2 separate regions of the Homo sapiens genome follow, and region 2 is linked to region 1. The links come from fine-mapping of genetic effects on gene expression. A gene starts in region 1. The other region holds a variant in brackets. All regions are shown on one strand. Distances are from middle to middle. Region 1 holds the start of GADD45B (growth arrest and DNA damage inducible beta). Region 2 has its middle 28 kb from the start of GADD45B.

Region 1 (5,367 bases):
ATGCCATGTGCAGTGGCATGATCTCGGCTCACTGCAACCTCCACCTCCTGGGTTCAAGTGATACTCCTGCCTCAGCCTCCTGAGTAAGCTGGGATTACAGGCGCGTGCCACCACGCCCAGCTAATTTTTGTGTTTTTAGTAGAGACAGGGTTTCACCATGTTGGTCAGGCTGGTCTCGAACTGACCTCACGATCTGCCCGCCTCAGCCTCCTAATGTGCTGGGATTACCCAGCCTGCAATACTTTTTAAAAATCAAAATCAATGCCCAAGTATCCATGAGGAACAAAATATCAAAATTGTAAATAAAGACAGAATCTGACTTTGCACTTATCCCACCCACCTCCCTGATCTTCCTTATCTTCAGCTCATGTTGGCCATGTTGGTCAGGTTGGTCTCGAACTCCTGACCTCAGTTGATCCGCCCGCCTCGGACTCCCAAAGTGCTGGGATTACAGGCGTAAGCCACCGCGCCCGGCCGATTTAACTTTTAAATTGAAATTATAAAATATAAATATGTATGTTGCATGCGTAAAACATTGCATAAAGTTACATAAAACGTTGCAACCGCCACGGTCCCCTTATCCCCCGCCTCCAGCCCAGTGCCCCGCCCGTCCGTCCCTCTCTTCCGGCGCTGAGGGCGCAGAAACTCGGCGCGGCCACCAGATGGCGCCACCGCGCCTCGCAGCCCCGGGACATTTCGTGCCCCAGCGGTGGGCGGCGCGGAGGAGGTGGGATGCGTCAGCCGGACCCGCGGGCCGGGGAGCCGGGCAACTGGGGAAAGTGAGCCGCCGGGCGGAGGCCAGACCCCAGGCTGGCGGGGGAGGGGACTCAGATGTGAGTCACCCGGGAGCCCCCAGTCGACCGTGGGAGACGTTGTCATGCGGGGCCTGCCAGCCTCGCTCCTGAACAGCCTTCCCGGGGCGGCGGAGTCCTGCAGGCGGCCGTGCCTGGCGCACACGCGTGGCTCCAACACGAACTAGCCTATGGCCTCACCAAGCCTCAGTTTCCCCTTTTGCATAATGCACATAAGCATCCCCCCTGCTTCCCAGGTCTTGGATTAAATCATCCATGAATCCGGAGGGGTGGGGGGTACCAGGTCCGCACCACGCACTCAATGCAGGTCAGCGCCCACCCCGGAGTGAGAAATAAAAGTAGCCGTCATCCTTGCACGTGGGCCCTGGGTGGCGGCGTGCAGCCGGAGCCTGCACCATTCCCCTCAACAATGGCTTTCTCCAGGGCCTGGAGGCCTCCGCACGGGCAAAGGCTGGAACGCCAGGCAGCCGGCGGGGGCGGGGCCGCGCCACCTGCACCTCCCACGCGCACCCCACCCTGATACTCGCGGGGTCGGCGAGGAGGCGCCCACTTTCTTCTCCAGAGCGCCCCGGGCTTTGCAACCTCCCACTTTCGGGGCCCTCGAGGAGGCCTCCCGCGACCACCAGGTGACAGCTGATGTGTATTGGGCTCTTACTGTCAGCCGTATTTTATGCCATGCTCTGCAAACCAGCGAGGCCGGCGCTGCAGACCCATTACTCAGACGGGAACAGAGAGGCCGGGAGAAGCGAAATCACCCAGGGGCTGGGGTCGTCGCAGCCAGGAGAGACTCCGGCCCTCACCACCACCTGGGCGAGATCACGCTGCAAACGGGGCCCCTTCCCGGTGCAGCCCCTCCACCCCCAGCAGAACTTGGGAAAGGCGCGGTCCGGGACTCTCCGCGGATCGGGAGGGGATTCCAGGCCCCCCCGAAAGTCCGGGCCGCCTCGCGCGCTGGAAATCCCGCGCGCGCCCCGAACCGCGGCTCGGCTGCCGGGAAATCAGGAGAAAAAAACTTCTGCTTTTTTTTCTTTTCTGGCATTCGCGGTCACCTACCCGGCCCCCGCGCGCCCTCCTCCCGGTTCTCGCCCCCACGTGGGGCGCCCCCGCACGCCGCTCCTCCCCCTCCCCTCCGTCGGCCAACCGCAGAGCTAGCTGCACTCGCCCTTGTCTTTCCACCAATAGGAGGGGCGAATGACTCCACTGAGGCCACGCCCAATGTTCAAGTCTATAAAAGTCGGTGCCGGAGGCTCCCAGCTCAGATCGCCGAAGCGTCGGACTACCGTTGGTTTCCGCAACTTCCTGGATTATCCTCGCCAAGGACTTTGCAATATATTTTTCCGCCTTTTCTGGAAGGATTTCGCTGCTTCCCGAAGGTCTTGGACGAGCGCTCTAGCTCTGTGGGAAGGTTTTGGGCTCTCTGGCTCGGATTTTGCAATTTCTCCCTGGGGACTGCCGTGGAGCCGCATCCACTGTGGATTATAATTGCAACATGACGCTGGAAGAGCTCGTGGCGTGCGACAACGCGGCGCAGAAGTAAGTAGCCGGGGCTGCCGCCGCCTGAGGTCAGCCGGGACGGGATGGGTCGGGTTGGGCCGGGCCGGGAGCGGAACGTAGCACCCGGTGGTCCGCCCGTCACTGATCCCTCTTTCCTGGTCTCAGGATGCAGACGGTGACCGCCGCGGTGGAGGAGCTTTTGGTGGCCGCTCAGCGCCAGGATCGCCTCACAGTGGGGGTGTACGAGTCGGCCAAGTTGATGAATGTGTGAGTCAGACCCCCTTCCCGGGCTGGGCGCGGGTGGGACGGGACCTCCCCTCCGCTCTGGACGCTTTCCGCACGCTTGTCTTGCATGGAGCTGGGACTTCCCCAAGTGCCCCCCGCTGTGGATGCAGAGCTTCTCTGCCGTTTTGTGGATCGGGGGCTGCCGTATCCTGATGTATCGTCTGCAAACACCCCTCCCGCCGTGGGCCTGTCTCCCCCTACCCCATACTTTGAACCGTGTGCCCTCCCCTCCCCCCACCGTCACCAGCTTGCAGAGGCAATCCCCTGCACCCTTGCAGTTTCTCTTTTGCTCTTGCACGCTCCTTTTTTGCAAACTCCCCCTGCACGGTGGCCCCTCCCCTGTCCCCGGCTGACCCATCCCTACCCTTTGGCCCCCTCAGGGACCCAGACAGCGTGGTCCTCTGCCTCTTGGCCATTGACGAGGAGGAGGAGGATGACATCGCCCTGCAAATCCACTTCACGCTCATCCAGTCCTTCTGCTGTGACAACGACATCAACATCGTGCGGGTGTCGGGCATGCAGCGCCTGGCGCAGCTCCTGGGAGAGCCGGCCGAGACCCAGGGCACCACCGAGGCCCGAGACCTGCATTGTCTCCTGGTCACGGTGAGTCGGGCCTCTGCCCTGCCCCGCCACGCCCGGGCACCTGGGCCGGTGTTTGTCAACAAAGTCGGGCTGACTGGTCCTGCACAGCTCAGCGCTCAGCCACGTTTGGCATGTCCCGTGGGCAGCCGGGCTGGGGCCTCCTCACCCAGGAAGCTATTTTGAGCCTGACTGTTTTCCCCACACAGGGGCCCCGGGAGAGGGAGGCTCCACTAAACCCCTTCTTTTCCCTCCTACAGAACCCTCACACGGACGCCTGGAAGAGCCACGGCTTGGTGGAGGTGGCCAGCTACTGCGAAGAAAGCCGGGGCAACAACCAGTGGGTCCCCTACATCTCTCTTCAGGAACGCTGAGGCCCTTCCCAGCAGCAGAATCTGTTGAGTTGCTGCCACAAACAAAAAATACAATAAATATTTGAACCCCCTCCCCCCCAGCACAACCCCCCCAAAACAACCCAACCCACGAGGACCATCGGGGGCAGAGTCGTTGGAGACTGAAGAGGAAGAGGAGGAGGAGAAGGGGAGTGAGCGGCCGCCCCCAGGGCGGAGATCCAGGAGCTGGCGGCCGCCGATCCGATGGAGAAGGGGGGACCCAGGCCAGCAGGAGACAGGACCCCCGAAGCTGAGGCCTTGGGATGGAGCAGAAGCCGGAGTGGCGGGGCACGCTGCCGCCTTCCCCATCACGGAGGGTCCAGACTGTCCACTCGGGGGTGGAGTGAGACTGACTGCAAGCCCCACCCTCCTTGAGACTGGAGCTGGCGTCTGCATACGAGAGACTTGGTTGAACTTGGTTGGTCCTTGTCTGCACCCTCGACAAGACCACACTTTGGGACTTGGGAGCTGGGGCTGAAGTTGCTCTGTACCCATGAACTCCCAGTTTGCGAATTATAGAGACAATCTATTTTGTTACTTGCACTTGTTATTCGAACCACTGAGAGCGAGATGGGAAGCATAGATATCTATATTTTTATTTCTACTATGAGGGCCTTGTAATAAATTTCTAAAGCCTCTGGTTGCTTGTATGTTTTCGGCTTCTAGAACAACTAGGACCCCTGCCCCCTCCCCGGGGACACGCTTCACCCCCCACAACCCCCGCCAGCTCACCAGGAAGTGTTACTTAAGCCCCTGTTAGCAGCTCCAGGCTCCCGTGCAGAAACAGTACCCCTTCTCTCCGCAGCAGGCGCCGCCACCGACTCCAACAAATCTATGCCTCTTTTTTTTTTTCCTTCTCCTCCTACCCTGCAGCAATTAAGAGACCGGTTTATTACGAAACCTGGCCGCCGTGCCACCACTGTTACTGGCTGTGCAGGAGCCAACCCCAAGCTCTGGGCACATATGGAGGCATTTCAGCGGGAGGGGGTGCTGGCTGCAGCCCCTGACCGCCTAGGCGGCCACCGCAGCCCAAGGTCCGGATCGGTCAAGGGGGCACCTGGTACCACACAGCGAGGTGAGCTCAGGGCTTGCAAGGAAGAGCGCTTTTGGAGGCTTCCCCAGGGAGTGCCCCCCCAGCCCACCACAGCCTTCTCCATCCCAGGATAGGCCTCTCTTTTGCACTAAAGAAAAAAACTTTTTTTATTTCCGCAAACTAAAATCAACAAGCAGAAAAATACCCCAGGAAGTCGGCCTCCGGGCCAGCCGGGCTTGGCGCAGTGCTGCGTTTTGCCTGTAAACCGAAACTGCGAGCCCTGGCCAGCCACCTCCTACTTCTCCCAAAGTTGCAGGCGCGGTGGTGACTCCCCCTGCCCCGGGCTGGGAGCGTGGCCCAGCCCTTCCGTGCCCGGCCTCAGTCTTCCCGCCCCGGGTCTGCAGAGTGGGCCCGCCCTGGCCAGGCGCCGGGACGACCTCGGTTCCCCTCTGCCCTGCAGCCCCCAAGCCTGGGAACTAGGGGGGAGTGGGGAGGGGGTGGGGTGGTCCTGCCCGCAGGCCGCGACCTTTCCACGGAGCCTCACGTGGGCGCATGAGGAAAACCCCAGCGGCTCCCTAGGAGTCACGGGGATCGGGGGAGCCCCGACGGGGGAGGGAGAGAGAGAAGGAGGGGGAAGTCCCAGAGGGAGAAGCGGGGAGGGGAGAGGATCCCGCCTGGGGCTAGGAGGAGGGGAGAACTGAAGTGGGGAGAGGGGAGCCCAAGAAGGGGAAGGGGAATCCCCCACAGCCCTGAACCAACAGGGAAACCCCGG
Region 2 (5,367 bases), 28 kb after region 1:
TCTCTGCTTAGATAAGCACTATGCTTCTGCTGCCTGTAAATGGCTCTTTTACCCTTTCTTTAGCATGAAAACAAATTTTCTAATTATTATAAACAAAATGTGTGCAATGTGGAGGCTGGCTGTTGGTACTCATTATCCTTCTCTTGCTTGACGTCAAGTGAAAGATAAATTGTTGCCTCTGGCCCTTCCCAGGACCAAAGAGAAGGCACGACGTCAAATGCATCTCCTTGGATTTGGGAGGCAATGTATACTTAATTTGGGTGTGCTTCCCCGGCCTGGTTGAGGAGGCCATCGTGCCCTCCCTCCATCAGTCTGCGCTCTGTGGCATCTGTGGCGTGGACCCTTCTTTGCTTTGCAGAGGCAGAGTGTCTGCATTCGGCATCGTACCCAGCCCAGTCCAGAGTTTACAGTAGGGGTCACCCTTGGAGGTCTGTGTTCTGTGGGTTTTACCCAATGCATGAGGTTACATATCCACCATGACAGTGTCACATACAGTAATTTCACTGCTCCCCAAATCCTCTGTGCTCCACCTATTCACCCTTATCCCCGCTTCCTTCAACCTGGGTAACCCCTGATTTTTTTTTTTTTTTTTTTTTTTTGATGGAGTCTCATTCTGTCACCCAGGCTGGAGTACAGCAGTGCCATCTGGGCTCACTGCAACCTCCGCCTCCCGGGTTCGAGCGATTCTCCTGCCTCAGCCTCCCGAGTAGCTGGGATTACAGGCCTGCACCACCACATCCAGCTAATTTTGTATTTTCAGTAGAGACAGGGTTTCTCCATGTTGGTCAGGCTGGTCTCCAACTCCCGACCTCAGGTGATCCACCCGCCTCAGCCTCCCAAAGTGCTGGGATAACAGGCGTGAGCCACCACTGATGTTTTTACTCATGTATAGCTTTGCCTTTTGCGGAATCTTTTCTAGTTGGGATCGTAGCATGGAGGCTGTGAAGGCTGCAGCTTCTTTCACTTGTTTCCCGGTGTATTCCAGATTTCAGGAGTTATTCGTACAACTCGGCTTGTGACTTCACATCACTCCAGCCTCTTGTTTCTGTTGTTATGTCTCCTTCTCTGACTGACCTTCCTGCCACCCTCTTACAAGGACCCTGTGATGACATTGGGCCTACCTGGATAATCCAGACAAGATCTCTAATTTTTTTTTTTTTTTTGAGACAGAGTCTTGCTCTGTTGCCCAGGCTAGAGTACAGCGGCTCCATCTCGGCTCACTGCAACCTCTGCCTCCCGGGTTCAAGCCATTCTCCTGCCTCAGCCTCCCAAGTAGCTGGGACTAGAGGTGCCCGCCACCACGCCTGGCGAATTTTTTGTACTTTTTTTTAGTAAAGACGGGGTTTCACCGTGTTAGCCAGGATGGTCTCGATCTCCTGACCTCGTGATCCACCCGCCTTGGCCTCCCAAAGTGCTGGGATTACAGGCGTGAGCCACCCGCCTGGCAATTTTTAATTATTATTATTTCTTTTTTAAAAATATGAAATGCTTCATGTCATCCTTACGCAGGGGCAATACTAATCTTTGCATCCTTCCAACTTTTTGAATATGTGCTACTGAAGTGAGCATGTTATAAGGGTAAGGTTTTGTTTTTTTGTTTTTTTTTTTTAATTTTGAGATGGAGTTTTGCTCTTGTTGCAATGATGCGATCTCATCTCACTGCAATCTCTGCCTCCCAGGTTCAAGTGATTCTCCTGCCTTAGCCTCCTGAGTAGCTGGGATCACAGGCATGAGCCACCACGTCCAGCTAATTTTGTACTTCTAGTAGAGACGGGGTTTCGCCATGTTGGTTAGGCTGGTCTCGAACTCCTGACCTCAGGTGATCCACCCACCTTGGCCTCCCAAAGTGCTGGGATTACAGGCATGAACCACTGTACCCGGCCAGTAAAGGCTTTAAATGTTTAATGACTTCAATCTGTTGTGACTTTTTTTCTGTCCTAATAGCTTAAGCAAACCCCTTCTGGAATATCTGAAAAATATGTTGGTGGGTGTATGAGACAGGGCCGACTTCATGGGTGTGCGACTTGTGAGTCACCCAGGGCCCCATGATCAGAAGCGCTGTGTGGTCGGAAGGGCCCCACCCTTGGTTTAATGCTGCTGTCATTGTCTTGAAATTCTTAAACATTTTTGAAAAAGGGCCCTGTGTTTTCATTTTTTACTGAGCCCTGCACGTTACATGGCCGGTCCTGGTATGAGACCCTCTTATGCTCCCCTGCAGAGCCCCTCGACCTCACCCACTCACGGGCTAGCTCCGTCAGGTGTTGACGGATGTCACTCAGGTGTGAGCTCTGCACCTGAGCTCCCCCCTGCACACAGGCAGCCACAACCAGTCAGTGCAGAGGTGAGCCTGTGGCCAGTGAGGAGCCGGTGAGTCAACCTCCTCCCGCCTACGGGCCCTGAGACGCCGGCTCCGTGAGCTTGCGGGGTCGAGGGCGCCTATATTAAGCCAAGGCTGAGGCAGTGACACACCCTCTTATGGGCCTGCTCTCGCTCCCTGCTTCATTGTCCTGGTCTCTCCCTCTCGTATGGAGGATCAGACTGGACTCCCCCAGAAAACAAGAGCATATGAACCTTCTGTCTCAGGCTCTGCCTCTGGGGAGCCCAAGCTATGGTTGGCTGAATAGCAGCCGGCAAAGATGTCCTTGTTCTAATTCCGGGAGCACAGGGGTATGTCACCTTCCACGGCAACAGAGACTCTGCAGGTGCGATTGAGTGAAGGACTCTGAGATGGGAGAGCAGCCTGGATGATCTGGAGTCCCCAGTGTCCTCACAGGGTCCCTCATAAGAAAGACTAGAAGAGGCTGCGCTCCTGGCTGCGAAGGTGGAGGAAGGGGCCCCGAGCTGAGGGATGTGAGCCCCTCGACGCTGGGAAAGACGAGGAGTTGGATTCTTTTTTTTTTTTTTAATTTAAAATAATTTAATTTTAAGTCTGGGATACATGTGCAGATCTAAATGATAGTCTAGGAGAAAATATTTGCAACACCTATAACAGATCAGAATTCCCAAGCCTGCAGGTTTGTTACATAGGTAAACATGTGCCATGGTGGTTTGCTGCAATCAACCCGTCACCTAGGTATTAAGCCCCACATGTTGCTG[G/A]GCGCGGCGGCTCATGCCTGTAATCCCAGCACTTTGGGAGGCCGAGGTGGGTGGCTTGCTCGAGGTCAGGAGTTCGAGACCAGCCTGACCCACATGGTGAAACCCCGTCTCTACTAAAAATACAAAAATTAGCTGGGTGTGGTGGCGGACGCCTGTAATCCCAGCTACTCAGGAGGCTGAGGCAGGAGAATCACTTGAACCTGGGAAGCAGAGGTTGCAGTGAGCTGAGATTGCACCATTGCACTCCAGCCTGGGTGACAGAGCGAGACTCCGTCTCAAACAAACAAAAAGCCCCACGTACGTCAGCTCTTTATCCTGGAGCCCTCCCTCCCTTCCCCCTCACCTCACCCCCCAGCGGCCCCAGTGTGTGTTGTTCCCCTCCCTGTGTCCATGTGTTCTCAGTATTCAGCTCCCACTTATAAGTGAGAACATGTGGTGTTTGATTTTCTGTTCTGTGTTAGTTTGCTGAGGACAACGGCTTCCAGCTCCATCCATGTCCCTGCAAAGGACATGATCCCGTTCCTTTTTGTGGCTGCATAATATTCCATGCTGTGTATGTACAACATTTTTGTCTTTTGAGACAGAGTCTTGCTCTTGTCACCCAGGCTGGAGTGCAATGGCGGGATCTCAGCTCACTGCAACTTCCACCTCCCGGGTTCAAGCAATTCTCCTGCCTCAGCCTCCCGAGTAGCTGGGACTACAGGTGCCCACCACCACACTCAGCTAATTTTTTGTATTTTCAGTAGAAACAGGGTTTCACCGTGTTAGCCAGGATGGTCTCGATTTCCTGACCTCGCGATCCACCCTCCTCAGCCTCCCAAAGTGCTGGGATTACAGGCGTGAGCCACCGCGCCCAGCCAGGATGTATCATTTTAAATCTTAGTTTGTGGAACAGTTTTCTAACTAAGCATGTCACAAAACCTAGAGAATCAAGAAAGGAACATGTTGATGAGTTTTGTGTGCCAGACATAAAAATCTAAATGATAGTCTAGGAGAAAATATTTGCAACACTTGTAACAGACCAGAATTAACAAGCCTGCGTAAAAAGTGTCTTTCATCCCAAAGAAATACGCAAGTGATTTAATTAGGAAATAAACAGACTGGGTGCAGTGGCACACACCTGTAATCCCAGCACTTTAGGAGGCCAAGATAGGAGGATCACCTGAGCCCAGGAATTGGAGACCAGCCTGGGCAACACAGCAAGAACTCATCTTTAAAATTTTTTTTTAAATTAGCTGAGTGTGGTGGTGCTTCCATGTAGTCCCAGCTACTTGGGAGGCTGAGGTGGGAAGACTGCTTGAATTTGGGAGATCAAGGCTGCAGTGAGCTATGATAGCACCACTGGACTCCAGCCCGGGCGACAGAGCCAGCAGGCCCTGTCTCAAAAAAGAAAAAAAAAAAAAAAAGAAAAGAAAAGAAACAAAAAGTATGAATAGGCATTTTACATATGAGGGAATAAAAATGTCTCATAATTCTAGGGACCGGTACACACACATATGCTGGAATGCACACACACATCCAAGTGTGTGTACAGAAATTAATATGTAGGCTGGGTACGGTGGCTAATGCCTGTAATCCCAGCACTTTGGGAGGCTGAGGAAGGCGGATCACCTGAGGTCAGGAGTTCGAGACCAGCCTGACCAACATGGCGAAATCCCGTCTTTCCTAAAAATACAAAATTAGCTGGGCGTGGTGGGTGCATGCCTGTAATCCCAGCTAAATCCCAGCTACTCGGGAGGCTGAGGCAGGAGAATCACTTGAATCCGGGAGGTGGAGGTTGCAGTGAGCCGAGAACACGCCATTGCACTCTATCCTGGGCGGCAAGAGTGAAACTCCGTGTCAAAAAAAAAGAAAGAAAGAAACATGTTCATAAGGCACTTTATTGAAAGATAGTGTGTAAAAGTAGCAAAACTCAGAAATAATCTAAATGTCCATCAATAGTATATAATTTTTTTTTTTTTGAGATGGAGTCTCGCTCTGTTGCCCAGGCTGGAGTGCAGTGGCACAATCTTGGCTCACTGCAACCTCTGCCCCCCAGGTTCATTGCCTGCCTCATCTTCCTGAGTAGCTGGGATCACAGGTGCCTGCCACCATGCCTGGCTAATTTTTATTTTTTATTTTGGTATTTTTAGTAGAGACGGGGTTTCACCATGTTGACCAGGCTGGCCTTGAACTCCTGACCTCAGGTGATCCTCCCGCCTCGGCCTCTCAAAGTGCTGGGATTTCAGGTGTGAGCCACCGCGTCCGGCTAAGCATGTAAATTAAATTACT

The links.
Region 2: its variant is fine-mapped to the expression of GADD45B in whole blood (TOPMed, PIP 0.95).

The regions. Positions count from the first base shown.
Region 1 is chr19:2,474,058-2,479,424 of GRCh38, forward strand. GADD45B (growth arrest and DNA damage inducible beta) reads left to right here and starts at 2,070. Exons shown (of 4, transcript NM_015675.4): 1 at 2,070-2,345; 2 at 2,472-2,573; 3 at 2,972-3,194; 4 at 3,431-4,200. The coding sequence starts at 2,302. The coding sequence ends at 3,544. RefSeq lists silencers at 711-850, 1,221-1,330, 4,891-5,367 and enhancers at 2,071-2,140, 2,142-2,729, 2,711-2,800, 2,730-3,319, 2,961-3,070 and 5 more.
Region 2 is chr19:2,501,573-2,506,939 of GRCh38, forward strand. It overlaps the pseudogene RNU6-993P. Among named protein-coding and RNA genes, the nearest start is that of GADD45B, 28 kb to the left of the region's middle. The variant G/A (reference allele first, on the strand shown) is at 3,097.